4 linked regions of the Homo sapiens genome follow. The protein of the gene in region 1 purifies or fractionates together with the protein of each later gene. This does not show direct contact. Each region holds a gene or a part of one and is shown in the gene's direction. Other genes may lie near its edges.

Evidence for each region.
Region 2: the proteins of CLMP (region 1) and KIF14 purify together in Homo sapiens (affinity purification with mass spectrometry; 2 studies listed by BioGRID and IntAct, with this or other methods). This does not show direct contact.
Region 3: the proteins of CLMP (region 1) and KIDINS220 purify together in Homo sapiens (affinity purification with mass spectrometry; 2 studies listed by BioGRID and IntAct, with this or other methods). This does not show direct contact.
Region 4: the proteins of CLMP (region 1) and UTP20 purify together in Homo sapiens (affinity purification with mass spectrometry; 2 studies listed by BioGRID and IntAct, with this or other methods). This does not show direct contact.

The regions. Positions count from the first base shown.
Region 1 is NC_000011.10:123,192,231-123,199,851, reverse strand, and holds the start of CLMP (CXADR-like membrane protein precursor), read left to right. Parts: upstream 1-4,603; 5' UTR 4,604-4,911; coding exon 4,912-4,939; intron 4,940-7,621. UniProt on the Homo sapiens protein: May be involved in the cell-cell adhesion. May play a role in adipocyte differentiation and development of obesity. Is required for normal small intestine development.
Region 2 is NC_000001.11:200,596,738-200,603,761, reverse strand, and holds part of KIF14 (kinesin-like protein KIF14), read left to right. Parts: intron 1-420; coding exon 421-536; intron 537-1,693; coding exon 1,694-1,866; intron 1,867-3,258; coding exon 3,259-3,406; intron 3,407-3,648; coding exon 3,649-3,712; intron 3,713-5,340; coding exon 5,341-5,525; intron 5,526-7,024. UniProt on the Homo sapiens protein: Microtubule motor protein that binds to microtubules with high affinity through each tubulin heterodimer and has an ATPase activity. Plays a role in many processes like cell division, cytokinesis and also in cell proliferation and apoptosis.
Region 3 is NC_000002.12:8,827,598-8,834,621, reverse strand, and holds part of KIDINS220 (kinase D-interacting substrate of 220 kDa), read left to right. Parts: intron 1-7,024. UniProt on the Homo sapiens protein: Promotes a prolonged MAP-kinase signaling by neurotrophins through activation of a Rap1-dependent mechanism. Provides a docking site for the CRKL-C3G complex, resulting in Rap1-dependent sustained ERK activation.
Region 4 is NC_000012.12:101,275,655-101,283,123, forward strand, and holds the start of UTP20 (small subunit processome component 20 homolog), read left to right. Parts: upstream 1-4,450; 5' UTR 4,451-4,628; coding exon 4,629-4,673; intron 4,674-5,461; coding exon 5,462-5,542; intron 5,543-7,469. UniProt on the Homo sapiens protein: Part of the small subunit (SSU) processome, first precursor of the small eukaryotic ribosomal subunit.

The DNA.
Region 1 (7,621 bases):
GAGCACAGGTCTCCATCTCCCCCTCAGTTCACAGCACTTTTCTCCCAGGATGTCTTTTTGGCATCTCCTACGCTAGGTGTAAGGTCCTGCTGTGATCTCCATAGCACTCTGCTCTTCTCTGAGCAGAGCATATCTCACTCCATGTTGTAATTGCTTATTGGTTGTTCATTTCCCTTAACTCACCAGAAGCTTCTGCAGGACAAGGACAACTTTTCCTTTGTTCACCATTGATTTTCCAGTGTTTGGCATATAGTAGGTGTTTAACAAAGATTTGCTGTATTATTGATTGAAAGAAAGAATAGAAAGATGGATGGAGGGATGGATGGATGGATGATGATTTATCAGCTCTTCAGTTACTATGTCTCCACGTAATTGGGTAACTTATCCTTCCATTCCTGACAAGTTAACTTACCCAACTTCCCTAGTTTGTCAGCAGTACTATTCAAAAGACAGTGAGGTGTAAAAGCTTTGAATCTCCTGACTTTATATCCTGCTTCAATCATTTACTAACCATGGGATGATATGCAATTTATTTAATCTTGCTAAACCTTAACCTTAGTTTCTTCATTGTGGTATGATATTGTGATACCTGTTAATCATGCTTATAATCTCTGGAATATACCAGGAGGTAGATAAATGGTCGGTATCAATCTTGGCATATGTAACAATGTATTCAGTCATTTATACTCAGATTCGGTGCCTCTTTTCTCTTCCACTCTTTTCACCCACATTGATTGTTATGTACTTAACCCTGTCAAATCTTTCTTCCCAATGTCTTCTACACTGTTTCACTACCCTCATCTTATCTGCCTATTTAATACAATAGGTCCTAAACAGTCCCTGTCCTTCAGGTTTCTTCTCCAGTGCGTCATACACTCCCGTTGATAGCTCTAGAATTCCTGTAAAGGAGAGGTTTAGGGTGGTACTCTTTGGCTCCCCAGAAATTGGGAAGGACAAGGGAAGTGTCTTGAATCTGCATATGTATATCACTCTACAAAATATTGAGACAAAGGTAGCTTGACAGATATGAAAGGGTCGCAAAAGTTCTCCACCCTGGCCAACTGTTGTAGTCACCTCTGGGCAGAAGCTGCCAATTTCCACTTCCTAAAATAAGGCTCTCATCAAGGTGATTTTTCTTAAATTTGTTTCAAAGAGCCTGGAAGAACACTGCAGAACGAGTTCTAGAATCCTTTTCCTCACATTTGGAACTTGTCACAGTTTTGCCCCCCAGGGCATTTTGCTTCAACAACAATTTTTATTTCAAGCATTTCATTTCATTCAAGGCCCCTCAATATGCCAAAGCTATTCCTAACTCCATGTCTTTGTCCAGGAATGCCCCCACTCATGGCTCTCCCCAGCTCATCTCTTCTAATGACATTCTGTTCATCCCCCAAGGGCTGGTTCCATCATTGCTCTCCTCCGCAATTACCCCAGCCTAAGGTGCTCTTTCCTTTCTTGGAATTCCCACTGTTTTTTATTGTCAGGATAATTTACTGTGGCATTTAACTATCTAACTTTCTTGTATTGTTGTTGAAACATTTCCCATGTTGGTGTTTTTTCTCCCTCTGAACTGAGAGGTCCGTCCATTCAGGGTAAGGACTATCTCGTAATCTTGGGATCCTCCGAGGCACCCAGCCCAGAGTGGGGCCCAGCACTGGTAGGGATGGGATGTGAGTTACAAACCATCGCAGAAGCACTCTCTCTCTGCTCTTCCTGCCCAGAGACCCATGCCAATAGAAAAGAGGTTTCAGATTTAGAGACAGACACCTTCAGGGACCCAAAGATCCTCTTCCAAAAAATATGTGCCATATTGGCTACAAGACTTGGGGCTGGGAAAATTGAGTGCTTGTGACCCAATCTCAGTCTAATCATTTCCTGTGCTGGTGACTAATGACCTAGAGCCAAAGGCGCCTGTTACCTTCGGCTTGAGCAACTGGGTTTAAACACATATCTGCCTACACCCACACACATCTGTCTTCATGCGCACACCAGCCCTCAAGCAATAAACAGCACTGGCATTACTAAGTTCTTGAGAAAGGCCACCAGCAGCGGTGGGGTGGAGGTGAGGCTTTAAAACTTGTGCAAAAACCCCACCTCTAGAGAGAAATAAAAAGGGGGAATCTGGGTGAAGAATTTTTGTACTATTTTCAACTTTTTTGTAAGCCCAAAATGTCAATTTTTTTTTTAATTATAAAGCAGAAACAACAAAAGAGTTACCTTCTGTATGTAGTTTTTCTGCCACCTTCTCCAGCCTTTAAGAATTACTGTTTTTGGCTGGGGATGGTGGCTCATGCCCGTAATCCCAGCATTTTGGGAGTTCGAGTCAGGTGAACTGCTTGAGCCCAGGAGTTTGAGACCAGCCTGGGCAATACAGCGAAACCCAATCTCTACCAAAAATACAAATATTAGCCGGGCATGATGGTGTGAGCCTGTAGTCTCAGCTACTTGGAAGGATGAGGTGGGAGGATCACTTGCACCCAGGAGGCAGAGGTTGCAGTGAACCTGGGTGACAGAGTGAGGCTCTGTCTCAAAAAAAAAAAAAGAAAAGAAAAAAGACGGTTTTTTCAACATATTCATTTACAAATTATAGTTGTGAATGTATCTATTTCCCCTATTAGACAATTAGTATGAAATGGAAAATAAAGTTACTTCGGAGTCAAAGAGACCTTTTAAACACTTCTCAATATAAAAAATAATATTTTTAAATATTAGAATATTAATATTGGAATAGAAGCATTTTAATTCTATTGTGATCTGGGGCAAGATATTTAGGCCTCTCTAAGTTATAGTTTCCTTGTCTTCCTATTCATGCTAAGGGATGGTGATTTTTTTTTCAGTGACTATCCCTTAGCAGTATAATAAGAATGATATAAAAAGGTCAATAATATGACCCAATAAAAACCACGTAATAATATAATATGATTCTGGGTCCATACTTGGTGTTCATGACATACTCCTCCCAGGTTTTTTTAAATGTCAACTTCCAAGTTCTACTCACTTTGTGTCCTCACACCTAAAAAAGCACCTGGCATAGTGTGGATGCTAACACATCGGTATCGAAGGGGTGAGGGAGTGAGTGGAGAAATGCTGCAATTCTAAAGCAATGCTCCAGCTGATCCGCGAGCCCTAGGAACAGCCCCAGCTTTTGCAAGTCCTCTGAGTGACCTTGTGAAACTTCCATAACCTCTCCAGGCCTTTGCTTTCCTAGTCTGCGAAATGGGACGGGTTTTCATTACACATTTGCATTTCATTGCAAATGTGTGACTCGGCAGCCCACCGGCCCCGGCGGGGTTCATCTTTCTTCTCAAGAGCGCTGGCCCCGGCTTCCAACCTGGGCTCTGGCGAGGCCGAAGGTGAGCGATTGCGTCATCATGCCTCTGGGCAGCTGAGGGAGAAGCCCTCCAGGGACATTCAGAGACTGGGACCAGAGTTTCTGAGAGGCCCTGGGCACAAGGTCAGGGCAGGAGGTCCAGGCAGCTGAGGTCTGAGCGCCACCCTCACTGCCCTTTCTTAGTCTCGCTGCCTCCCGCTGCCGCTGAGCAGCAGGGTAGTGAAGGGCAGACTCCCAGGGGCCGACCCTGGGGCGGGGCTGCTCGGCTCCGCGGAACCCACCGTCCGCCCCCGTCCGGCCGCCAGCCTCCTGCCCTCCGCGAGCCTCCTGGGCCGGGTTCCCGGAGCCCGGGCGCGCAGGCCCTGGCACCAGGGGGATTCTGCTCCCTCTGCCTTATGTTCTTTCTGAAAGGGGGTGGTGCACATTTTGGCCAGGGCCACGTGCAGAGCACTTTGCTGCAAAGCATCTCGATAGACCTCTTTCCACGGGGCTGTGGGTCCCCTTCCCCTGGGTGCTGGCTGGCTTAGCTCTGCTCGGGACCTGAGGGAGCGCTGCTGCAAATACCGACAGTAGAAAGCGAGCGAACGCGAAAGGCCCCAGGAAAGCCAGGCCAAGGGGGGTAGCCGGGTGCCAAAGCAGGCAGTCGGTGGGGAGAGCCCTGGTCGGCCGGCCGCTGGCTGCCTTCGCACCCACTTCCGCGCCCCGCCGTCGGCCTGGTCAGTCTGGTGGCTTTACACTAACAGAACCAGACGGGGAGGGAGAGGAGAGGCGAGAAGAGCGCAGAGGACAGAGGGGAGAGGGCATGAGGAGACGAGGAGGGAGAGGCAAGAATGCGAACAAGGAGACCTAGAGAGGAAGAGATGGAAGAGAGAAACGCCAGATTTGTGAGAGACGTGGAAGCAGAGAGAAACGAGAGTAAAAAAGAAGCGAGAGAGAAGTGGAGAGAAGGACCAAGTGAGAGCAGAGCTCTAGGAACGGACAAGGCCTCGTCCATGGGCTCTCAGCCGAGGTGTCACCAATGCCTCCTGCAAAGAATCAATCCTACGCCCGGCGCCTCTCAACCCACCCGCCTCTGCACGGCCCCAGGTCTCCCCCGGCCCTCCCTGCCCGGCCAGCTCACGCTTCTCCCCGACCGGCCCCCACCGCAAACCCCAAACGCCGCGCGGGAGGGAGGGAGGGAAGGAGGGAACAGCGAGAGAGAGAGGGAGGGGCTGCGGTAGGAGGCAACCATGTGGTTCCAGCTGAATTTTTTTTTTCCCTCTCTCTTTCTTCACTCCTTTTTCTTTCCAAACAGGGAAAAGTGTTCCACGAAGCGGTAGCGCCTTTTCGCCTCGCGTTTTCCTCCCTGACCCTGGTCCCGGCTCCCGTCCGGGCGCCAGCTGGTGGGGCGAGCGCCGGGAGCCCATCTGCCCCCAGGGGCACGGGGCGCGGGGCCGGCTCCCGCCCGGCACATGGCTGCAGCCACCTCGCGCGCACCCCGAGGCGCCGCGCCCAGCTCGCCCGAGGTCCGTCGGAGGCGCCCGGCCGCCCCGGAGCCAAGCAGCAGCTGAGCGGGGAAGCGCCCGCGTCCGGGGATCGGGATGTCCCTCCTCCTTCTCCTCTTGCTAGGTGAGTGCCTCTGGGAGGGCGGGAGTTTGGATGGCCGTGGGCAAACGCAGCCCTGCGTCCGGGAAAGACGCCGGTTCTGACCGGGTGTCCCTGCAGCCCCTGGAGTCAGCCGGCTTTTCAGTCCCTGCCTCCTGGCCACGGAGGAGCACATCTGGCAACCGAGGGCCGCCCAGTCGGCCATCGAGATTGTCTCGCACATCTGGGCCCTTGAACAGGCTTGGGGAACCGTTTGATGTGCAGGGTCCTCTTTAGGGCGGTGTTTAGTTTCTGGTGTATCTGGGAAAAGTGGAGAATTGGTGGAGGGAAGGTTTATCCAGGAATTTTTGTGCCAGGTTCCTGAGGGTGGGGGTTTTTTGTTGTTGTTTCAAACAGGCGCCTCCGAGGCTCAGATTAGAAACAGATGTGTTAAAGGGTGAGCAGAGTGGGGGATAGGCAGGGTTGGAGAGGAAAGGGGAGAGGGAAAAAGGGCAGGGCCCAAGGAGCACCAGGAAGATGCAAATGCCCCAAGTCACACAGGGAAGGAAGGAAAAGGGGAAAGGGGAAGGGTTGGGAAGGAGAGAGAAAAAGAGGAGAACAGGAATGTAAAACAGAAGAGCAAGGCTGGGGGAGTCCGAGCACAGAGAGTGAAGAAGACTTGGAAAAAACGCAGCAGAGGAACCAGAACAGAGGGAAATAGAGCAAGCACCACTTTTTCCTGAAACAGGCTCCAGAGCAAAGGGAAGAGTCCTCCTGAGCGTCCCTTCCTGGGGTCCCCCAGGCAGGACTCTTGGGGCCTCAGAGGCCCTGAGGCAGAGGCAGGTTTGCAGGAGAGGACATCAGGGATGTGGGTGGTAGGAGCCCACCGGAGTGACTGGAAATGTCTGAGGAGCCAGGGCAGGAAAGGCAGTCAGGGAGAGCCAAGGGCACGTCACTATGCACCCTGAAGCATGGGATCCACTGCAGACAGGCCCCACAGTTAGCTGGAGATCAGAAAATCAAAGAGCCAGCCAGTGGTCAAGAGTGAGCACTACCCTGAACACCAGGCCACGGGAGAGCTGGTCCTGGTTTTGAACTGACTAGCTGGGTGGCCTCAGACAACTTACTCCTTATCCAGGGCTTCCACGTCTTTAGCTCTGGAAAGAGAATACTAGATGGTTCCTAAGTCCCTTCTAGCCTACAACACCAGAGGTTTGAAGGAGGCTGGTGTCTAGAAGAACCACCAAATCCTGAAATACGTGGTTAGAGTTCTCTGTCTTTTTTGAAACTTTACAAACCAATTATACTGTATGCATACCCATCTTGGCCAGCCTCAGGCTGATAATCACTTAAGTTAGAGAAATGAAAGAGGTGGGCTAAGCCAAACTATTGCTCAAGTAAGGCAGGTGGGGAGGGGTTATTTTCTAAACTCTTTTAGACTTAACCAAATACTGCAATACTGTTCCTGTGCACATCTGGCGCAGCTGGATGGCACCTTGATTCCCTTTACTGGACTCTACCACTAGGTTACCAATCACCAGATATTTAGTAGAATGAAACTTCAGGGCTCTCTTATTAAAAACAGCTAATAGTCCTTGTTATATGAACACTTTATATGTACTATCTTGGTAATTCGTTTGTTCTTCACAACAAGCCTATTGGCTGCCCAGCCATCCTTGTTGGCTACCCTCATTTTACAGATGAAGAAACCAAGCTGTAAAAAGGCCAGGTAACTTGCTCAAGGCCACACACTCATAATTAGGGGAGACGGAATTTGAGCGCAGGCTGCCTGCTTCCAGAGAAAGCTTGCTAAAGCGCATTGCTTTACAGCCTCCTGTGGCTGCAGAGATTCTCAAAGCGCTTACCCTCTGCCACACCTGGCTGGCTCTTCGATCTCACCATCCTCTTCATGGAATGTAAGATGTCAGCGTGACCTATAGGAGAGAGGTCTGGGAAAGGGAAAAAAAATTTGCACTTTTTGAGCACCTGTCCTTATTTAAGAAATGGTTTGGAGCCATGGAATGCTCGGACACTGTTCAGCAAAGGCAGAAAGAAAACACAGCAAGTTGTCTGAATCCTGAAATCATCATACTGGTCCTTTAAAGGGGCAGTTCCAGGGCTGCTTCTGATCCTGGCTGGCATGGTTTTTGGCTTCTCTTTTTCTAAAGATTGCACAGTATCAAACAGGGGCTGGGAGGGTGGAGAGTGTTCATCGTCTGAACTGTGGGACAGTTGACTCCATGTTTCCTGGACCTGCCAATGAGTGAGGTCAAATAACCCACCTCTCTGATGTGAATGAATAAGAAGTGCTCTGAGCCCCATGGAGAAGAGAGAAGGAGCTCCAGCTCAGCCCCTCTTCTGACCCACTATCCTGCCTCACTCCCGTAACGTTCCGGCCCTCATTGTGCCACCTTAACTTCTCTCCTGGATGACTATAGTAGCTGCCACGTTCCTGTCCTGCCTGTCCTCTCTCCTCCATCCTGCACACTGCTACCCGAGTAACCCTGTGAGGCCGCTGGTAGAATGCACGAAGCTGGAACTTAAGAGTCTGGCAACCTCTCTGGTTCTTATTCTGACTCCCTTGTCTGTACAATGGGCATAGGGGTAGGGGAATGTTCAATTCAAAATTTCTATAATTCTATGGTTTTTCTCCCTTCTTCCAAAAACCTTTAGTAGTCTCATTGCTTTTAGTGTTGAGTATAAACACTTCATTCTGACATCAAAGAC
Region 2 (7,024 bases), on another chromosome or scaffold:
CACTTAACCTCCCCAAATATATCTTTATCTGCAGTTTATAGACTGCATTGCTGTGGTTGAAAAAGAGATACGTACTTTTTGGTTATGATTAATTTTTAAAGAAAATACGTTTGAGTCATAAGAAAGTTGGTAGTTTATAGAAAAAAGTATTTATAGACAGGCATTGTGGCATGTGTCTGTAGTCCCAGCTACTTGGTTCAGGTGGGAGGATTGCTTGAGCCTGGATGGTCGAGGCTACAGTGAGCCATGTTTATGCCACTGCACTCCAGCCTGGGCAACAGAGTGAGACTCTGTCTCAAAAAAAAAGAAAGTAAAAAAGTATTTACTCAGTAATTATATGAGGGGAGAAATATATTTTGTGAAATAAATTTCTTGCTGAGAAGTATTTTAAGTTAAAAATTTTTTTTTTCTTGCATGCAGGAAGGTGTGAGTATTAATAAGTCCTTGCTAACTTTGGGAAAAGTTATATCTGCACTTTCGGAACAAGCAAACCAAAGGAGTGTTTTTATTCCTTATCGTGAATCTGTTCTTACATGGCAAGTATCTTTTGAAGTATAAAGAATTGTATAAAATATAGTGAATACTATGGGGAAAAGAATGATAGACTGACTTCATTAACTTTGGGATGGAGAAAGGTGGTAAGCATTATGAATTCTAGAGCCAAACTACCTGGATTTGAATCTCAGCTCAGCATCTTATAAGCTCTGTGACTTTGGGCAAATTACTTAATATTCTAGCCCGTTTCCTCATCTGTAAAATAGGAATAAAATCAATACCTTTTAGGGGTAAGTGAGAATTAGATTATTAGTGTACAATTCTTAATACATAATATGTACTATATGAGTGTAAATAACTGTTCTTGTACTTAACTATTATTTGTGGCTGATGTTTGAACATATATGGTACTACCAAACATATTGCTAGTTGTATAAAGAGAAGTTGAATAATTTTGTTTGCTTACTACACAGTGACTAATACATGGGTGCTCAATAAATGTTTTCATTAGTGAATGTATATTTAATTTTCAATATGTTACATTCAGATTACATCTGTATGGATTTAATATTCAGTTGTGATAGGCATTAATATACAGTTACAATAAGGACTGCATCTTTACTTGAGGGTAATGTGTCTTTATAATTGGTTTATTACAATGTGATTGCCACCTTGAAACCTATAAGGGAAAATCTGATTTTTTTCATGTCTTATGAAAGTTAAAAATAGTGACATTCATTCTGCACTAATATATGTTTTAAGTCTCATACTCTTTTTCTCTAAAATAAAGATTTTGCTTTTAGTACAATATAGAATTTTTGTTTCAATGTTCATCATTTTCAACATTTATTGAGCACCTGCTTCAAAAGGTTGTGGTAGCACTGGAAATACAAAGATGACCAAGACACATAGTCCCTTCCCTATGGTAGCTCACAGTCATGAAATACTTGATGATCCACCACATTTTAGAATCTCTGCACAGATTATTGCCTCTTGAAACAATATAAAAAGTGTAAGAGAGAAAAAGTGTTTATGAGATCTAGAAATAGTTACAAATACCAGAAAAGTTTTAAATGGTATTTGAGTAGAGTATAATAATACTGTATTATATACCCTATTAGTTTGTTTTGTGCTTTCTAGATAATTACTGTTATTAAGTTGTTGTAGAAGCAAAGTCTTATGACTTTTTTTCTTGTAGGCTGTTAAAAGAAAGTCTGGGTGGAAATTCAAAAACTGCAATGATTGCTACGATTAGTCCCGCTGCCAGCAACATAGAAGAAACATTAAGCACACTTAGATATGCTAACCAAGCCCGTTTAATAGTCAACATTGCTAAAGTAAATGAAGATATGAACGCTAAGTTAATTAGAGGTGAATATTTTCTCAGAATTTAAAAATTGTTTTGCCACAGTTTAGTCCCAGATATTAGTTGCAGTCTTAAAATATGTAATTTATGAACATCAAAGGTGTTTTTCTATACCTATTTTAATAGATTCTAGTCATCAGCCTATAGTGATGGAGGATGATAGGTAGAAGGACAGATAATAAGTAATAAGGAGAAAAACAATTAGGAAAAGAACATAGAAAACAGAGTGTGAGTAAGGGGGAAACAGTAAGCATTAAACAATAAATTTACACAGTCATAGACGTGTGCAGCAAAATGCCAATAAAACTATTTACTATTTTTCTCTTATGACCTCTCTTCCATTGACGTTTTATGTACTAGCTCTGCTCATGCTTAGTTCATTGATCCAAAGGCAATTGGAGCTCGAGTTTCTAGTATAGGCTGAACTTCATTTATGCTAAATACTGCTTTCTATTTATCTCTAGGTAATCATCAATTTAGGATAGACTTTAATGCCTGCAAGAAATCTTGATTTGTACAGTTTTATCTTTGCTGATGTAGAACTATCATCTTTTCATGCCCCTTTGTCCTCTGGCCCTTTTTAGCAGCAGAAGGTGATAGACACTTCAGATGTATGAGCCAGAGAAGAATCTGATTTGTCTATCCTGGTCCATCCTTTCCCTTTTGGATCCCTTCTGTTTCACAAGTGGGACTGTTTTCATTAAAAATAAGTATTCTGGGCCGGGCATGGTGGCTCATGCCTATAATCCCAGCACTTTGAGAGGCTAACGCAGGCGGACTACTTAAGGTCAGGAGTTCGAGACCAGCCTGGCCAACATGGGGAAACCCTGTCTCTACTAAAAATACAAAAATTAGCCAGACACAGTGGTGGGCACCTGTAATCCTGGCTACTCGGGAAGCTGAGGCAGGAGAATTGCTTGAGCCCAGGAGGCGGAGGTTGCAATGAGCCGAGATCGTACCACTGCACTCTAGACAGTGAGACTCTGTCTAAATAAATAAATAAATAAATATTCTGAATTCCAGCTTGAAAAATCTTTGATCTTGGCTGTTCTGCCTAGTGAATAGCCATTCTTTTATTTCTTTACTTTTTAAATAAACTTTCACTTTAACAATTACCCTTTTGCCTCTCAAAAGTGTTCCACTTTGGTCAGTACATTATACAGCTTTCCTACTTATGAACAGGGAAAGTTCATTAATATGGGAGCATATTTCAGGTTAAGACTAAGTAAAGATTTATAGGTTATATAAAGTAGAGCTGATTTCTCCAATATTCTATTTTATTTAGTAATACTGTATTTAAAACTTCAAATGAAATAGAAGATTGGAGGATTATGCTTACTGTGGAAATTGTTATATATTAAATGTTATTATTAATGCATCTTTGTATAAATCTTCAGAATTGAAGGCAGAAATTGCAAAGCTAAAAGCTGCTCAGAGAAACAGTCGGAATATTGACCCTGAACGATACAGGCTCTGTCGGCAAGAAATAACATCCTTAAGAATGAAACTGCATCAACAGGAGAGAGACATGGCAGAAATGCAAAGGTAGAGTACAGTCAGTACTCTAAATGTTAAGTGTGTTGCTCTGGAATCATAGGAATGGCAGGGACCTCAAGAGGATACTGAGTATTTTTCCGACCTTCCTTATGAATAGAGCAGCCCACTCCCAGATTATCATATTTTAAATATTACTAGGTAGTTGCCTAATTTTCATTGATTGTCTCTTGACTCTCAATCTTATACATCTGGATGTTTTTAACTCTGTTATTTTCTTTGTCTTTGGAAAGAGTGTGGAAAGAAAAGTTTGAACAAGCTGAAAAAAGAAAACTTCAAGAAACAAAAGAGTTACAGGTATTATTTCAACTTTCTAAACTGATTAGAAAATAAAAGAAATATGCCAAGAAATAAATATTGCCAATATGCCAATGCATGTAAATTTAATGTTTCAAATACTTACTATATACTGACTCTGTACAAAGCAATACCGTAAGGAAAATTAATATAAAGAAATGTTAAGATCAAGACTGGTTGCTTAGAGCCAGCCCATAAACTAGTTGGAAAGTTAAAGTATGAATAAACCATCTTGTTATATTTACTTTGGTTCTACAAATATATATTAAATGTCTATGCTTTTCAGGAACAGGGGAAGCCAAGGTGATTAAACACAGTTTCATCCCTCAGAGAGCTTGTGATCCAGAGAGAGATTTACAAAACGTAAATAGAAGACTGAAATGCAATGTGATTTCAGTAGATTGAGCCATAAGCAATTGCCATTTTTGTAGGTAAAGCATGGTTGAACACTGGCAGTTTCATATGGTTGAACCTAATGTAATGAAAAGTATTTCAAGTGATTGGTAGTGGGGGAGTACTATAAGAATTCAGGAGAAGAAGGGAAAATTCCTTGCGCATGGCCAATCCAATCTCATAAAAGAGGTGGCATTTGAGATGGGCTTTGAAGTTTGGGTAAGATTTTAATAGGAAGAGAAAAGGAAGAGCACATTCTTGGAAGAGAAAATTCTCTGAAAGTAAAGGTAGAAAAGTTTGAGTTGTCTTTAGAAAGGGTACGTAGATCAGTTTTACTGGAAGCAGTTTATATGAGATCATAAGGAGATACAATTGGAAAGATATGTTATGATTAGTTTATGAAGGACTTGATTTCCAGGCCAAGGAAATTAAGTTTTATCCTGTAGGAAGTGAGAAGCTGTTAAAAAGTGACCAGGGAATTTACATTTTGAGAGCACCCTTTCGAGAGAATTAACCTGGCATAGGATATAAGATGGATTGAAAACAGAAGCTGTTGACGGTGATCAAGAGGCTGCTTCAGTAGTTTTGGTGTGAGTTGACAGGGGCCTGTGGTGAAGGCAATGAAGATGCAACAAAACAAACTGATCTATTCTAAAGACGGTCAGTCAATAAGAAGACACAATTTGGTGATGATAGATTGATGTATGAGTAGACTGAGGATGGTGAAGGACAAAGAAGGTAGGGAGGTCACAAAGGAGAGATTCTAAGGAAGGAGGAGAGAGTCTAAAAAACCTTTATGGCCGGGCACGGTGGCTCACGCCTGTAATTCCAGCACTTTGGGAGGCTGAGGCGGGTGGATCACCTGAGGTCAGGAGTTCGAGACCAGCCTGATCAACATGACGAAACCCTATCTCTACTAAAAATACAAAAATTAGCCGGGCGTGGTGGCATGCGCCTGTAGTCTCAGCTACTTGGGAGGCTGAAGCAGGAGAATCGTTTGAACCCAGGAGGCAGAGGTTGCAGTGAGCCGAGATCGTGCCACTGCACTCCAGCCTGGGTGACACAGCGAGACTCTGTCTCAAAAAAATAAAAATAAAAAAATAAATAAATAACCTTTAATTTAGTGAGACTTCATATAGAATTGTTTTAATGTTTAATATAGACCATTTGTTTTAGGTGAATTTAACAATTTCATACTGTGATTAAGATTAATTTCTTTTTCTGACTTCTACCAGAAAGCAGGAATTATGTTTCAAATGGACAATCATTTACCAAACCTTGTTAATCTGAATGAAGATCCACAACTATCTGAGATGCTGCTATATATGATAAAAGAAGGAACAACTACAGTTGGAAAGTATAAACCAAACTCAAGCCATGATATTCAGTTATCTGGGGTGCTGATTGCTGATGATCATTGGTATGTTAATCCTCTAAAAAAAAAGAAAAGGCACCTGTTCTATATCTTGATAACATGTGGTTTCCTTCATATGGCATATTCGTTGATACTGATCGTTTGGTAGAATTCTTCAAACCCATTGTTTAGTCAGGAAAAACATACATTCTGAGTGTGTTATAAGGATGATAGGTCAGTTACTCTCAATATAAAGTACAGTGTAATGCTCTCTCTGTTTTTGTTTTGGCATACTTGATCTGTTGATTGAAGAATAATTTATTTTCTTGCAATTATAATGATGCACATGCAAGTAAACTATCTATCTTACATAACAGAATTTTTGGTTGGATTGACCAATTTAAAAATGTTACTTTATGTGAATTTTGTTCATATGAATGGAATACTTGTATATATTGTTGGAATGATAGCGTATGTAAACTTTTTTGACTCTGCATTGTGTTTCCAAGATTTGTGTACATTGGTTCCTGTTTTATTTTCACTGCTATGAAGTATTCCATTGTATGAGTTTATCTCTTATAAAGTTTAGGAAGTGCTTTTAAATTGTATGTCTGAGAGTAGAGATACTAGGTTGTAGAATATGTGCATATTCAACTTTAGTAGCTAATTTCAAATTATTTTCCAAAATGAATTTTTACTCCCATTGGCCTTGAGAATACCTGTTACTCCACATCGTTGCCAATACTTAGTACTGTCAGACTTTATGCCAATCTGATGAACACTAAATAGTATATCATTATGGATTCATTTTACATTTCTTTGATTAATAATAAGGTTGAACATCTTTTCATGTGTTGATTGGCCATTTTTGTTTACTATTGTAACTTGCCTCTTCATATCTTTTGTTGATTTTTCAACTGATTTGCTTATTTCTTAATAATTTGTAGGAGTTGCCAATCTTTCGTGAGCTTTTTGGTATAAATATCTTTTTTTCTAACGTGTAACATCTTTTTACTCTCTCTGGTGCCTTTGATTGATTGAAGTTCTTAATTTTATTGTAGTACCTGGCATCAGTCTTTTCCTTTATGATTGTCAGTTTTTATGTCTTAAAGAAAGAATGTTCTGGCTGGGCGTGGTGGCTTATGCCTGTAATCCTAGCACAGGTGTGTGGGCTCAGGAGTTTGAGTCCAGCCTGGGCAACATGGTGAAACCCTGTCTCTACTAAAAATACAAAAAATTTTCTGGGCGTGGTGGTACCTGCCTGTAATCCCAGCTACTCAGGAGGCTGAGGCATGAGAATCGCTTGAACCTAGGAGGTGGATGTTGCAGTGTGCCGAGATCATCATGCCACTGTACTTCAGCCTGAGTGACAGAGCGAGACTATGTCTCAAAAAAAAAAAAAAAAAAAAAAAAAGAGAGAGAGAGAGATAGAGTGTTCTGGCCAGGTGCGGTGGCTCACGCCTATAATCCTAACAGTTTGGGAGGCTGAGGCGGCAGATTACTTGAGACCAGGAGTTCAACATCAGCCTGGCCAACATGGTGAAACCTCATCTCTACTGAAAATA
Region 3 (7,024 bases), on another chromosome or scaffold:
AAAACAGATAGTCTTTATTCTCATTGAGCTACATTTGTTTGGCTAGGGGAAGCAGACCAAAAACAAAGTATGTGGTATGTGGAGTGATGCTAGGTGTTATAAAGAAGACCTTTAAAGTAGGGCTGTGGAAGGGGGATATAGTAGAGGGGGAGAGGGCTGTTTTATACACGTATAAATGGTATACACCATTTATACACGGTGGTCAGAGAAGCTCTGATCAGGTGACGTATGTACAGAAAGTCACTGTGGCCTGAGTAGAGTCAAGGAGAAGGAGCAGCAAGAGTTGAGCTTAGGGAGGTGGAGAAGGGGTGGAATAGATCAAGCAAGGCCTTGGCCCTGGTAGGGATCTGGGATTTTGAGTGAGAGGACAACCGTTGGGATGTTTTGAGCACAGAATGGTTGTAAGAAGACACGATTCAGGAGGACCACTTAGGCCTCTGTGTGGAGGGGGCAAGCGCTGCCACCCAGGCCCAGGAATGTCAGCACCAGGGTAGGCTCTGGGGACTGCACAGGGGTGATTGTTGCTGGAGACTTAAGTGGGAGGAGGAGAAGAGGGGCTGGAGATAGAGAACCATGGGAGGGGCCACATTCAGGAACTTACTGTGTCGTATCTGGAGGATAAGAAATAAGTAAGCCTTGGGCAGCATGGCACTATTGTTGCTTTCATGCACTGTGTCTGTAACCGGAGAAAAGTTATAGGGTGCGTCTATTAACCGATTGGCCTTTTGGTGAAAGCATTTTGAATACATTTAGAGATTTTGCCTATTAAATTGGCAAGTTCTAAAAATGGACTTACTACAACATAAATTTTTTGTTCTGACATTGCTGTTGGCTACATCTGCCATTTTCAAAACGGGTGGCAAGACATTAATTTTTTTGCTAATTGTGCAAAAGAATGTATAGCCTTATATTCCCATTAGAGAGAAAGTGCTGTGGACATTAGATTCAACTGATGTCCATTTATTCAAGAAATATAGTGTCTTGTATGGGCCAGCTATTAAGCTAAGTGTTGGGTATTTGGTATAGAACGAAAGAAAATAATTCATTCCTTTTAAAAGCTTATATCCTAGTGGGAGAGACAGCTATTAATCAGGTAAATATGTCCCATTCCAGCAGGTGTAGCTAAAAAAAAAAAAAAAAAAGACAAATTTAAAAAACATAAATATGTAAATTACAAGTTTAGTAAAGTGTTATGAAGGAATAAAAAAGATTCCATAATAGAGAACAATCCAGGTTATGAGAATCAACCAAGAAAGGGTGGTTAAGAAATGATCATATTCTGTTATTATGTAAAACAGCTAATATTTATTGGCTTCATATGGGTTAGGTATTATTTTAATCCCATTGCATGTAATTGTGCAGTTATTTGAAGATGGGGAAACTCAGACACTGAGGTGAAGAAACTACCCCAGGGGACAGGGAGTGATAAAGAGAGGCTGGTTAATAAGTACAGACATACAGTTAGGTAGAAGGAGTAAGCTGTAGTGTTCAGCAGCATGGTACTATGCTTAACAGTTTATTGTGTATTTTATTTTTTATGGTATATTTTAAAGTAGCTAGAAGATAAGATTTGAGATGTTCCCAGCACCAAGAAATGAGAAAAGTTTGAGGTGATGGATATCCTAAATACTCTGATTTGATCATCACACATCCTATGCATGTAATCCAAATATTACACATACCCCATAAACATGTACAATTATTATGTATTAGTTAAAAAAATTAAGGAAAAAAAAAAGAAACTAGCCTGGGATGATATAATGGTCAGTAGTAAAGTCAGGAGTCAAACCAAGGTAGTCTGGCTCTAGGGTCCATACTTTTGACCACTAGACAGCTTCGTTTTAAGCCGAAAGGGCTTTTGGAAGTGAACGTTGAACTGAAATGTGAAAGATGAGAAGCTGTAGTTTTCCTCCTGTGATGAAACATTTTTTTTTCTATTGAAAATGAACGTAGACTTAATACATCAAGTAAAACAATATAGCACAAAGACGCGTGAAGGCAAAGCTAATCATCTCCTCCTTTTAGTCCTACATGGTAAGATAACGAATTTTACAGCCAGGTGTGTGTCCTTCCACACTTTTCTTTTTGTTCATGTGTACACACTGGATAGATACATATATGGGGGTCTTATTTATTTTATCAAGTAGAATTATACTACACACGTGCTCTTAAACATGACAGCGTGTCATTGGTTTTACTATTGTGTGTATCAACAGATGTGGATTTAATGTTCTAATTTTATTTTGTAATTTCTAGGCACTTATATATGTGCTTACAAACATCTTATGACATTTAATAATCAATTATTCAGTGAAATTTATTAAACACTGTCAGTGCCCTCTAGTCAAAGACTGCCAGGAACATACCTCTAGTTGAACAAAGTTGGTCTTATTAACTCCCTGCAATGAAGGAGAATGCCTGTCCTAGGGAACGTTGGGGGTCTCTGTAACAGGTTGTTAGAAAGGACTTAGAAGATTCGAGATGATGTTAGGTGATTCGGGGAAGAGTTCAAGGAAGCAAAGCTTTGCTCAGTCTCGGGTGCTTCAGGAATAAGGAGGAGTGGGAATTCTGCAATTGGATATTTAAAATCTTAACGAAAAGGCAAGAGGTATGGAGTAAGGCTAAAGCTGTAATTGATAAAGAAGCAGCAATGCTTCATATTAGCCACGATAGGAAGATGTTTGGGCATTTTGTGGTTTGGGTGATGTTCATGTTTTTGTCTATGTTCAGATATGATTCCAGAGTAGTCTTATTTTTGTCTTCATATCCTGGTGACAGAGTGACCTTGTTTGATGTTGGCATTCTTTGAAATTGTTGCATTTATGTTAGAACACCAAGTCTGGCTGTGTGTGCCGGGTCAGTTCCCGACAGTCAGGGGCTGCTTTTCTCTCTCACCTCCTGTTGTGTAGGCATTGTGCTAGATATAAAGCAGATCCTGCTGCAAGAACTTCTAGTCTAAGGGAGATGTGGAGAGAGTGAGTAAAATGGAGAGGAGAGTTGAGTGTGATGTGAGCAGTCTACAACTAGATGTATACACAGGTGTGGAGGAGCCCAGGGCCTGGCCCAGCTTGGGGTAAGCAGCCAGTCAATGAAGGCTTCCAGAAGATCTGTTAGAGCCATGTTCTTAAGGATGGGTAGGAGCTGTTCAGGCATATATACGTGGAGAATGGACTTTCTAAGCAGAGGGGGCATTAAGTGCAAAGGTCTGGAAAGAACAAAGTGTGGGGCAGTGAAGGAGCTGCAAGTAGATCAGTCTGGCTGGAGCTGGAGGTGTAGATGTGACTATGTAGAGGGTGGGAGGGATGGGGCTGAGGAGGGGAGAAAGATAAGGCTGGAATGGTAAGATGGGGCCAGATTGTGAAGAATCTGCATGCCCTCATCATAATCAAGAATTGAACTTACTGAGTTTTCACTCTGCTCAGTGGAGAGCAAAGCTTTCCGTAGGAATTGTGTATTTGCATCTTTACAATGGCTTTAAAAGCCTTAGAAGGCGTAAGTTCCTTGAATAACTTGTAAGTAGTAAAGCTGTCATCTGTCCTCCCAACCTTGGTTTTAGGAGAGATGTATTGTAGGTCACTCTTGCTTCAGTGTGGCAAATGGATTGCAGGTGGCAGGCCTGGAGAGAGGAGGCAAAAGTTGCTAGCCTGTCACATTGATCTGGGTGAGAGATGGTGTAGTAGAAGTTTTTAGGATTGATGCCTAGATCACAACTGTTTACTCTTTTCTGGAAACAGTGCCAATATGGTGTGACCTTGTAACCCCCTCCCAACTTTGTGTCTCTAGTTGCTTGGTTCTGGGTGTGCAACAGATCCAGCCTGGGCAGTCAGAGCCCTTTTCTGGGACTGTTGGATCTGGGAACAAAGAATAGCCTGCTTTCTCTGGTGTTAGAGACTATCTGATTTAGGCCAGGTGCGGTGGCTCACACCTGTAATCCCAACACTTTGGGAGGCAGAGGCAGGCGCATCACTTGAGCCCAGGAGTTTGAGACCAGCCTGGGCAACATGGTGAAACTTCATTTCTACAAAAAATAGAAAAATTAGCTGGGCATGGTGGTGTGCACCTGTAGTCCCAACTACTCAGGAGGCTGAGGTGGGAGGATCGCTTGAGCCCTAGAGGTCAAGGCTGCAGTGAGCCATGATCGTGCTACTGCACTCCAGTCTGAGTGACAGAGTGAGACCCTGTCTCAAAAAATAAATAAACGATCTGATTTGAGGCTGGATGGCTGTGGGAAGCCATATTTCCCTTTGTGTAGAAGTAGTTGGTCTAGAAGGAAAGTAGATTAAGCCAGTAGAGAAAGAGAATCCTCCTGGCATTTGAGGTCCAGTGGCACCCACTCTTCCTGTAGTGTGGTTATGGGAAATAAACCATTATCCTTCAAATACATTTTTCTGTTTTGCTTAAGCTAGTTTAAATTAGTCTCTTGCAACCTTAGGGGTCTTGATTAGTATAGATGGTGAAGGTCTAAACTAAGGCACTGAGTGTGGGGTTGGGTGATCTCACACTTTAGGGGGTAAACTGGATGAAAAATGGTAGCTGTGTGACTCAGAGGGAGATGGGTGCCTTGGTAGAGTAGAGATGAGGATGGTGTTCTACATGGAAGGAGCACATTGAGCATAGGCGGGAGTGTGGAGCAGCACTGGGGGAGTGTGGTGAATTTGAGTTCTTCTGCTTGGCTGGGCTGTGGGGTGAGCTGGGGCTGGTATAGAGGGAGAGCCAGATCCTGCAAACCTCACTGAGGCCTTAGGCTTGATCCTAGAAGGAGTGGGAATAAATGAAGGTAGGTGTTGGTGATGACTGCTAATACAAACCCTCACTGCTTTCTAATGATAGAAGCATCACATTCCAGAACATGTAGGAGATAAAGGTTTTAAAGAAAATAAAAATTACACTAATGCCCATCACCATTTGTTCTTTTTTTATTTCCAGTATTTAAAAATGTATACATTTAAAATAGCTGAGATGCTGTATATATAGCTCTTAATCTTTTACCTCACTTCTTCTATCATGAGCATTTTTCTGTAACACATTTTTTGAGACATTTTGATGACTGTATATTATCCTACTTTGTGAATTTTTATAATTTATATAATATCCATTTCTAAGATTTTTGTTCTTATGGATAAAATTGTTTTACTTAAAATCTTAAAATTTTGTTCATGTTTCTCATGTTTTTAGAATAATTCCTAGAAGTGCAACTATGGGATCAAATAACATCATTTTTTAAAATAATAGTTTTTCACCCCAAGAGTATAAATTCAAGTTGTTCTGAATATATACTCCCTAAAAGTAAGGTATACTGATTTATACTTTACATGTAATAACATTCACCCTTTTTAATGGACAGTTCTGAATTTTGACAAACGAATGATTGTGTAACTGCCACAACAGTCAAGATATAGAACAGCCATTAACTCGCCAAATTCTCTTGTACTCTTTTGTAGCCATCTCATTCCCCTGCCTTAGACCCTGGCAGCCCCGATCTGTTTTCTGCCCCTGCAGTTTTCCTTTTCCAGAATGCTATATAAGTAGAATCATATAGTGCTATAGTTTCTGCCCTCTGGCCCCCAGAGATAGATTTCCTTCCTGTGTCAAAACATATTCACTCCATCGCAAGGCCTCCCCAAAAGTCTCAGTTCATTTCAGCATCAACCCAAAGTCCACAGTCTCATTTAAATCTCATCATCTAAATCAGGTATGAGAGGGTCTGGGTGTAGTCCATCCAGAGGCATGATTCCTTTCCACCTGGGAAACGCAAGAATCAAGTTATCTGCTCCAACTTAGAGTTAGGGAATGGGCATGGGATATCAGTTATAGACAGTCCTGTTCAAGGGTGGAGGAAAAGGAAGGCAAAGAGGATTCACCAGTCCCAAATAATTTCATTTTCATAACAGCCAAAGTTTTCAATTTTGACGAACTCTGGTTTATCAGTTTTCTTTTTTTATGCACCATGCTTTTAGTGTTATATCAAATCTTTCTTAATCTAAGGTCACTGAAGTCATCTATATTTTCTTCTAGAAGTTTTGTACTTTCAGACATTATATTTAGGTCAATTTTGAGTTAGCACCTGTATGTGGTACAAAGTATGGATTGAGGTTTATTTATTTGCATTTGGATGTCCAGTTGAATATAATAAAATTTCTACTCTTTTAGAACTTATAGTTATGGTAGACAGACAATAAGTGAACAATATGTCATTTTTTGGATGGTGGCAAGTGGTGTGGAGAGCAGTGAAAGCAGGACAAAGGGTTGAGAGTGCAGGGTGACAGTGAAGCCTGTGTGGGGTCGGTACCCTGACATCCCACATCCGGTGAGACTTTGTAACCAGGTGACCTGACGGGGTCAGGGGGTAAGCCGTGTGCATGTCCTGTGGAAGAGAATTTTAGGCAGACAGAAAAGTAGCACAGAGGCCTGGCGAGGTGGGACGGTGCTCAGTGTGGCCATGCAGCCAGGAGGGTGAGAGGGGGTGGTAGGAGCTACAGTCACAGGTGTCACACAGGTGAGAGGCTTGCCACTGAAGAGTTATCTTGGCCAAGGTAAAAACATTTGATTTTACTTTGAGCACCCCGAGAAGCCCTTAGAGGGCTTTGAATAAAAGAGGCCATGCTCTGACTTAGTACTGCTCACATTGTGGTTCTTCCTCAGTGTTGTCAGTGTCACAGGGAGCTGGATAAAGATGCAGAGTCAGGGGCCCCACTCAGACCTGCTGAGTCAGAATCTCTGACGGTGGGGCCCAGGAATCTGCTTTAAAAGCTCTTCAGGTGATTCTGATATATGTTAAAGTTTTAAAAAAAGTAATGTAATTTTAATTGACAAATTATATATATTTAGGGGTACAATGTGATGTTTTGATACATGTATCCATTGTGGAATGATCAAATCAGGCTAATTAACATATTCATCACCTCCCATACTTAATTATTTATTTGCAGTGAGACCATTTAAAATCCACTCTTCCAGGTAAAGTGGAGGCAGGGAGGCCAGTTAGGAAGCGATGATAGTGACGCAGGTGAGTCACGGTGGCTCG
Region 4 (7,469 bases), on another chromosome or scaffold:
CTGAAAGGTTAAGTCAGTTGCCCAGTTACTGGCTAATACATGAAAAATGCTAGAACTGGGACCCAGTTGTCCCAAATCCAAACTCCATGCTCTCACTGCTTCCTGATTTACACACACTGTCAACAATACACAGTTTTCTCAAGAAGAGATACGTGGATCAGCTTTCCTTACTACCACAGTCAAGAACTACTCGGCTGGGCAGGAGGATCGCTTGAGCCCAGGAGTTCAAGACCAGCCTGGGCAATGTAGTGAGACCCCTGTCTCTATTTAAGAAAAAACCAACAAAGAATTACTAAAACTTTCTCTTCTCTTTCTTTTTTTTACATTCACTTCCTTGGTCCCTTGTTCTGAGTCAAATCCTCTCTGCCCTGATACACAGCACTCCTTGAACTGCTTTCTAAACAAGACCATGCCACTAGGTCGACTTGCCCCCTTCCAGATCACCACATACAATGTGTTAATTACTAGACTTGATCTTAGCCAAAAGGCTGAGAAGCGATACAATGTATTAATTAATCTTTCAACGGTCTCATATGACTGTGAGAAGTGATACAATGTGTTAATCTTTCAACTGTCTCATATGACTGTTGACTTTCTCATATGTCTATCTCACTTTACAGATGAGAAAACCAAGGCTCTTCTTACCTCTGAGCTTCATCTTGTCCCTATTCTTTCCTATTATTAGTCCAAGGATGCTAAAGATGATACCCATGGCCAATGCTAATTTGACAGGGTGTGGCTTTGCCTTGGAAACTAAAAGTAACCAAATTTGTCTCAACCATTTTGAGACAAATGCCTATACTCCTCCCTCTACCTAGATAACACCATTCATGTCCATTCCTTGCCTGGCTAATTCCTATTCATTTTCCAGGTCTCAGCTTAGATGTCACTTCCCCCAAGAAGCCTTCTCTGGATTCCACTTTCTTGTCTAGGCTGGGTAAACTCCTCATGTGCTTTCTTCCCTTCCTTTCCCTCCTCTCCCCTCCCTTCCTTTCCTTTACTTTCCCTTCTTTCTCCCTCTCCTTCCTTCCTTTTTTTTCTTTCAAGACAGGGTCTCACTCTGTTACCCAAGCTGGAGTGCAGTCGCAGGATCACAGCACTGGAGCCTTGACCTCCTGGATCAAGTGTTCCTCCCACCTCAGCCTCCTGAGTAGCTGGGACTACAGGTGCACATCCCCATGTCTGGCTAATTTTTGTATTTTTTGTAGAGATGGGATTTCGCCTTGTTGCCCAAGACTGGTCTCAAATTTCTGGGTTCAAGCAATCCTCTCACCTTGACCTCCCAAAGCTCTGGGATTACAGGCATGAGCCACTGGGCCTAGCTCTTACATGCTCTTAAAGTTTCTTGGCTTGAAATTGCAGCACGCTAAGCAATAAGGAAACAAAAATTAAAAAGCAAAACTTCCAGGAGCGCCCTATAAAGCTTAAGAATAAAAGAATGAAAAAATAATGTATGTTATTTACTGGCTGGAGTAGTTAGGACAGGCAGAGCCCTAATGGAAAAAGGATATAAAGGATGGTATAGGATATTCATCCTATACCTTGACAGAGGACAAACGCTGGAAGCAAGGAAATGTTTATAAGAAACACTCGTGCTCTTCACGGATGCTTTCGGTATTCCATTAAAGCTTAGAAACTTAGTTTTGAGAGATACCAAAAATCATGTGGTGCAATTCACATCCAATGCTGGAACTATATTACTCTTAAATTTGTCCGGGTCAATGTAAGTATTATAAGCTTTGTTAATTCAACAGACATTCATTAAACAACTCTTATGTTCAAGGGAACTGATGACACAAAGTTGAAAAAGTATAAGGTGTCAGCCCTTAAGGAACTTGTCAGGTAGCCAGGTAGTAGAGAATAAATGGTCATTTATTTATCCACTTAGCAAACATTTATTTCATGCTCTATGCACCAACACAGTATCTTGAAAGACTGGTATTATTGTCATCTCTATTTTATAGATGAGGAAATTGGGTCTCAGAAAGGTTAAGTAATTTCTGAGCTTGCGCAATTATGGTGTCTGGCACATTCTAAGCATCTTTTATCCATTAGCTTATTTACTCTGCATAATCACCACCCGTGAGGTAGCTACTTTTGTTAGCTTCATTTACATATACGGAAATGTCATTCTGAAAGGGTAACTGACCCTACTAATAAATGGCAGAACCAGGATTACCTCCAGACAACCTGGTTCCAGCATCTATGCTCTCAACCACCATGTTCTATTGACATATTGTTAAGCCAGTCAGAGTCAAGTCAGTGTGTGAGGGTCATGTAATGAAGAACAATGCAAACAATAAATGGTCAATATAACTTGTGTCAGTTCTTTCAGTTTCTTTGATTTTTCTCTTCACTCCTTATTGTCCAGTTAACTCCATTACCAAAAATAAATTGCAGAGAAGGAAAATGGCACAATGATGTGGGGGTGATTTTGGCAACAGGTTGGGAAAATATTGCTTTGAGTGGGGGCTTCTACCCTCAGTTAACTGCAGGCTTCTAACTCTCTGAAACGTGCACATTTTAGTGTGGATGAGCTTCTTTGCATCTTTCTGGGAGAAGTTCTACAGCTTTCTTAGATTTCCCTGTGACCCATAAAAGGCTTTTAAAAAAAAAAGACCAATTATTAGCCTACTGAAAGCCAATGGAACATTAGGCACGTCAATATTTTATTATAAAAAAATCTATAAATGCTATGGAGGCATTAAAATATTTAGAACAACCCTGTGGTGACACAGAAAATGTTGATGTGATAATGCCAATAACAATTTGAAAGTGTTATGTTCACTTTCTCAACTCTGATTACCTCCTCAATCCATGCATATTTCACTTCCTTTCTTCCAACTAGACTGTACTTAGCAAGGTCACCAGTGACCTTCACCTTGTCAGATCCAGCAACCACTTCTCTATCCTCGAATTTGCAGTATAGTTGGCCACCAGCTCTGCTTCCATGCCATAACTAGTCTGTTTCTACCTTACTGGCTCTCTTTCCCAGTCGCAAATGCCTCACACTTGAGGTATTTAGGTGTATTTAAGTCACGTCTGCAGCCCAGACTGCTACAGTGAGCTCTGTACAACAATATATCCAATTGTCTACTTAACATCACTCCTTGACTAAAATGTAAGCATCTCAGACCAAGTATTTCCAGTCTGGGCATGGTGGCTCACCCCTGTAATCCCAGCACTTTGGGAGGCCAAGCCAAGAGGACTGCTTGAGTCCAGAAGTTTGATACCAGCCTGGGCAATATAGCAAGATCCCATCTCTACAAATAATAATAATAATAATAATAATAATAATAATAATAATAAAAGAGCTGGGTGTGGTGGTGCATGCCTGTAGCCCTAGCTACTTGGGAGGCTGAGGTGGGAGGCTCACTTTAGCCCAGGAATTGAAGGCTGTGAATATTTTCAAATAATTAATTAATACTATTATTGCCTTTCTCGTTTGGCTCCCAGAACAGTACCTGGTCCACAGAGGACTCTCAAGAAATAGTTGCTGAATGAATGAATGAATGTAAAATGGGGTAAATAATTATATTTTTAAATTATTTTTTAAAATTGTACATATATGTATATATAACTGTACAATTTAACAACATGCTATGTGTAGACATTAAAGTGATGGGAAAAACACCAAACATTAACAGCGGTTGTGCATGAAATTAAAAGATTTTTCTTAAAACTCCTTCTCTATTTTTCAATTTTATTTACAGCGTAGTGGTTAAGAATACCAAAATTTAGAGTCTGAGTGAAGACTGCCAGTTACCAGCTGCACAACCTTGGTTTCCTCTTGTGTCAAATTGGCTTAAAAATATACACAGTACCGGCCAGGCGCGGTGGCTCACACCTGTAATCCCAGCACTTTGGAAAACCGAGGCGGGCGGATTGCCTGAGCTCAGGAGTTCGCGACCAGCCTGGGCAACAAGGTGAAACCCCGTCTCTACTAAAATACAAAAGAATTAGCCGGGCGTGGCGGCGGGTGCCTGTAGTCCCAGCTACTTTGGACGCTGAGGCAGGAGAACTGCTTGAACCCGGGAGGCGGAGATTGTAGTGAGCCGAGATCGCGCCACTGCCCTCCAGCCTGGGAGACAGAGTGAGACTCCGTCTCAAAAAAAAAAAAAAAAAAGTATATATCTATATATAGATATATAGATAGACGCAGTACCTCCTTTGTATTAACATCCCTAATAAGCTTTACTGTGAAATTATGGATGAAAGGATCTTTGCACGATGCAGGTACGTAGTGAGGGACAGTAATGTTAGTTGATAACGATTACAGGTATGTTTTATTTTATAATGAAAATACATTTGTCTTCTAAACCTTTACCGAAGGGAGTGAAAAGAACACCTCACCCAAACGCCCGCCCTTATGTGCGCAGCCCCGCCTCCTGTAGGCCCCACCCCACCAAAGGGTGCGCCTGCGCCGTTCTTTTTTCCGTCCACGTGACCCACTCAGGCTCCTCCTTGTCTCCAACATGGCGGCGCCCAGGGGCTCAAGCCGCACGTGAGAAAGTCTGGGCATCTGGGAATCGGAGAGTATAGCCTGTGAGCCGCTTTCCCCTCCTTACTGTCGGTTGCATCCCTTCGACACTCCCGAGGCCGTCGCGGGCCACTGGCCCTCTGCAGCCATGAAGACAAAGCCCGTTTCCCACAAGACCGAGAACACCTACCGGGTGAGCGCGGGAGCTTAGGCAGGGAGCCGCGGGTCTCCGCTGCCTCAGTCGTGAGACAGGCTCTGAGCGAGACTCCAGGGGCCTCAGACTTCTGGGCCGAGTGTGTCACTTTCCTGGAGGCTCCGGCGAAAGAGGGAGACACTGGATGTAGTAAACATGGGTTGGAGGAGGAAAGAAGTGTGGACAGCAAGTTTCACCCATGTTTTATGGGGTCTGGCCAGTCCTGGGAATTTCCTGTAGTCCAGAATTAAATTCACTATTCCAGGAGATTGCTTAGGACCAATTCTCCCCTGCTCTTTTATCTTTAAAGACCGAATTGGGCGAGTCGGCTGGCGGTGAGTGATTCCCAGCTAAGGGCAAATATACAGCGCTTTCTCTGTTTGCCCCTTGATAGATTGTTTCCAGGTCTTCCTTAGGATACAATCATAGGTCTGTATATGTTTAAAAACACTTTTATTGCAGCGACTTTGCTAGGTCCCCATGCTTATGGGAGGGTATGAAACCTAATAGATCTAGCGAGACTAATTGCCAGCATCCACCTAGGCTCACCAGTCTGGCAATGGAAATTTTATTTGAAATGACATAGCTGAGAGAAATTATGCAAACATAGAAGTATTCATTATCTTTGAACAGTGATGCAGTAAATTTGTTTACGGCCGTATGTTTTTCAGTTTATTTTTCCACTTATCCTTTGTGATTAGAGATGCCTACATGCAGCATTCAAATAGATATTAAAGATCTGATAAATTTTAATTAATTATGTATCTTAAATATACTTTCCCTTCCAGTTTCTTACATTTGCTGAACGACTGGGGAATGTTAATATTGATATTATTCACCGGATTGATAGAACTGCAAGCTATGAGGAGGTAAGAGAATGTGATACTAGTCAATCTTCAAGTGTTCATGGTGTTTTAGTTTCTTCTGTTAGTAGAAGTGAATTGTTTTTCAAGGTATTCCTTTTTGGACATGAAATGCTTTAGACCTGTGCTGTTTCATACAGTAGCCACATATGACAAATTGGATTTAAAGTAAATTAAAAATTTGGGTGCCCAAATGTGGCTAGTTGCTAACATATTGAATAAATATAGAATTGGAACATTTTCATCTTTGCAGAAAGTTCTGTTGGGTGAAGCTCTATTAGACAATTGACTTGACTTTCAGCTGTCTTTGTGATTCTAGCCTCTCCCTTTCCCTTATGCATTCCAAGCACTGCTGCAGATCCATATTCCTGAAGCTATAACTTTAAAGTGATTTTGAGGAAGCCCTTTTCCCGGGGCTTAATTTTCTCCTTTATAAAAATAAAGGGGCTAGACTACATAATATTTTCCAGTTTTAACCATACTCTGACTCTGTCATCCCTTTATTTTACTTTTATTTATTTATTCATTTTTTTGAGATGGAGTCTCGCTCCGTCTCCAGGTTGGAGTGCAGTGGCGTGATCTTGGCTCACTGCAATCTCCACCTCCCAGGTTTAAGCGATTCTCCTGCCTCAGCCTCCCGAGTAGCTGGGATTACAGGTACGTGCCACCACACCCAGCTAATTTTTGCATTTTTAGTAGAGACGGGGTTTTGACATGTTGGCCAGGATGGTCTCAATCTCCTGACCTCGTGATCTGCTCGCCTTGGCCTCCGAAAGTGCTGGGATTACAGGTGTGAGCCACCACGCCCGGCCTTGTCATCCTTTTATGCAGAAGTCTTTTTCTGCATCATGTCGTTATTCCTCCTAGCATTTTAAGGTCGTACGTAACATGCCTATACCTTGGCGATCCAATCTCAGTTCGTAATATTCTTCTTTACTATAATCAGACTCCACTCGCTGGGTCTTTGAATGCATTATCTCCACTGTGTAAATTCAATGTGTTAAATGATGTCGTCTAGGTGAGCACATTGTGCTTTGAGAACTCATAGTAAAGGGAACCTAACCTACATTCTTTAGGGGTGTCAAAAAAACGGTGATCTAGACGAGGTGACACCTGAATTTTGTTTATATAGGTTTTAGCATGGTAAAGAGGACAGGAAAGCCTGTTCCAGGCTGAGGGAGAAGCCTATATAAAGGAACAGAAGCTAGAGAATGCATGTCACATTCAAGAAACTGCAAAGCAGTCCAGTGTGGTTATAGGTGTGTATAGGGTGTTTTTTTTTTGTATTCATGGTGACTGGGATGGGGCAAGGGGGCAACTGGTGAGATAAAGCTGGAGAAATAGGCAAGGATCATAAAGGACTTCATATGTGAAGCTAAGTTGGGGTTTTATCCTGAAGCTGTAGGGACTTAGAGTTCTAGGACTGTAAGCAGGGGAATGAATGACATGATCAGGTTTAAATTTTCAATCTCTCTGGCTTTAGTGTGGAGAAAAGAGCAGGACTGCAGTTCTTCATCATGTCATGATTCCTCTGCTAGCCTTTTAAGGTCCTGTGTAACATGCCTTTAACTTGGAGATCCAATCTCAGTTGTCCAGTTGTGAGGATTTGACTGTTATCTAAGTAAGAAATGATTATGGTAGCAGCAATCAAGATAGAGAGAAGAGAAAGATTCCAGAGATGTTGAGGAAGTAGAATGAATGGATAGGACTTGTGACCTACTGGGTTTGCAGCAAGGAAGATAATGAGGTTAAGGCTGAATGGTTGAGGATGTTACTCATCAAGATATATTTATAGGTAAAGGAGCACAAGGTTGTAAAGATAAGATAATTAGTTCCATTTGGGGCTTGAATTTGAAATACCTTTGGCCATCCAAATGATAGTGTCCAAAAGATGTTTGTATATATGGATCTGGAGTATAGGTGACTTCAGAGG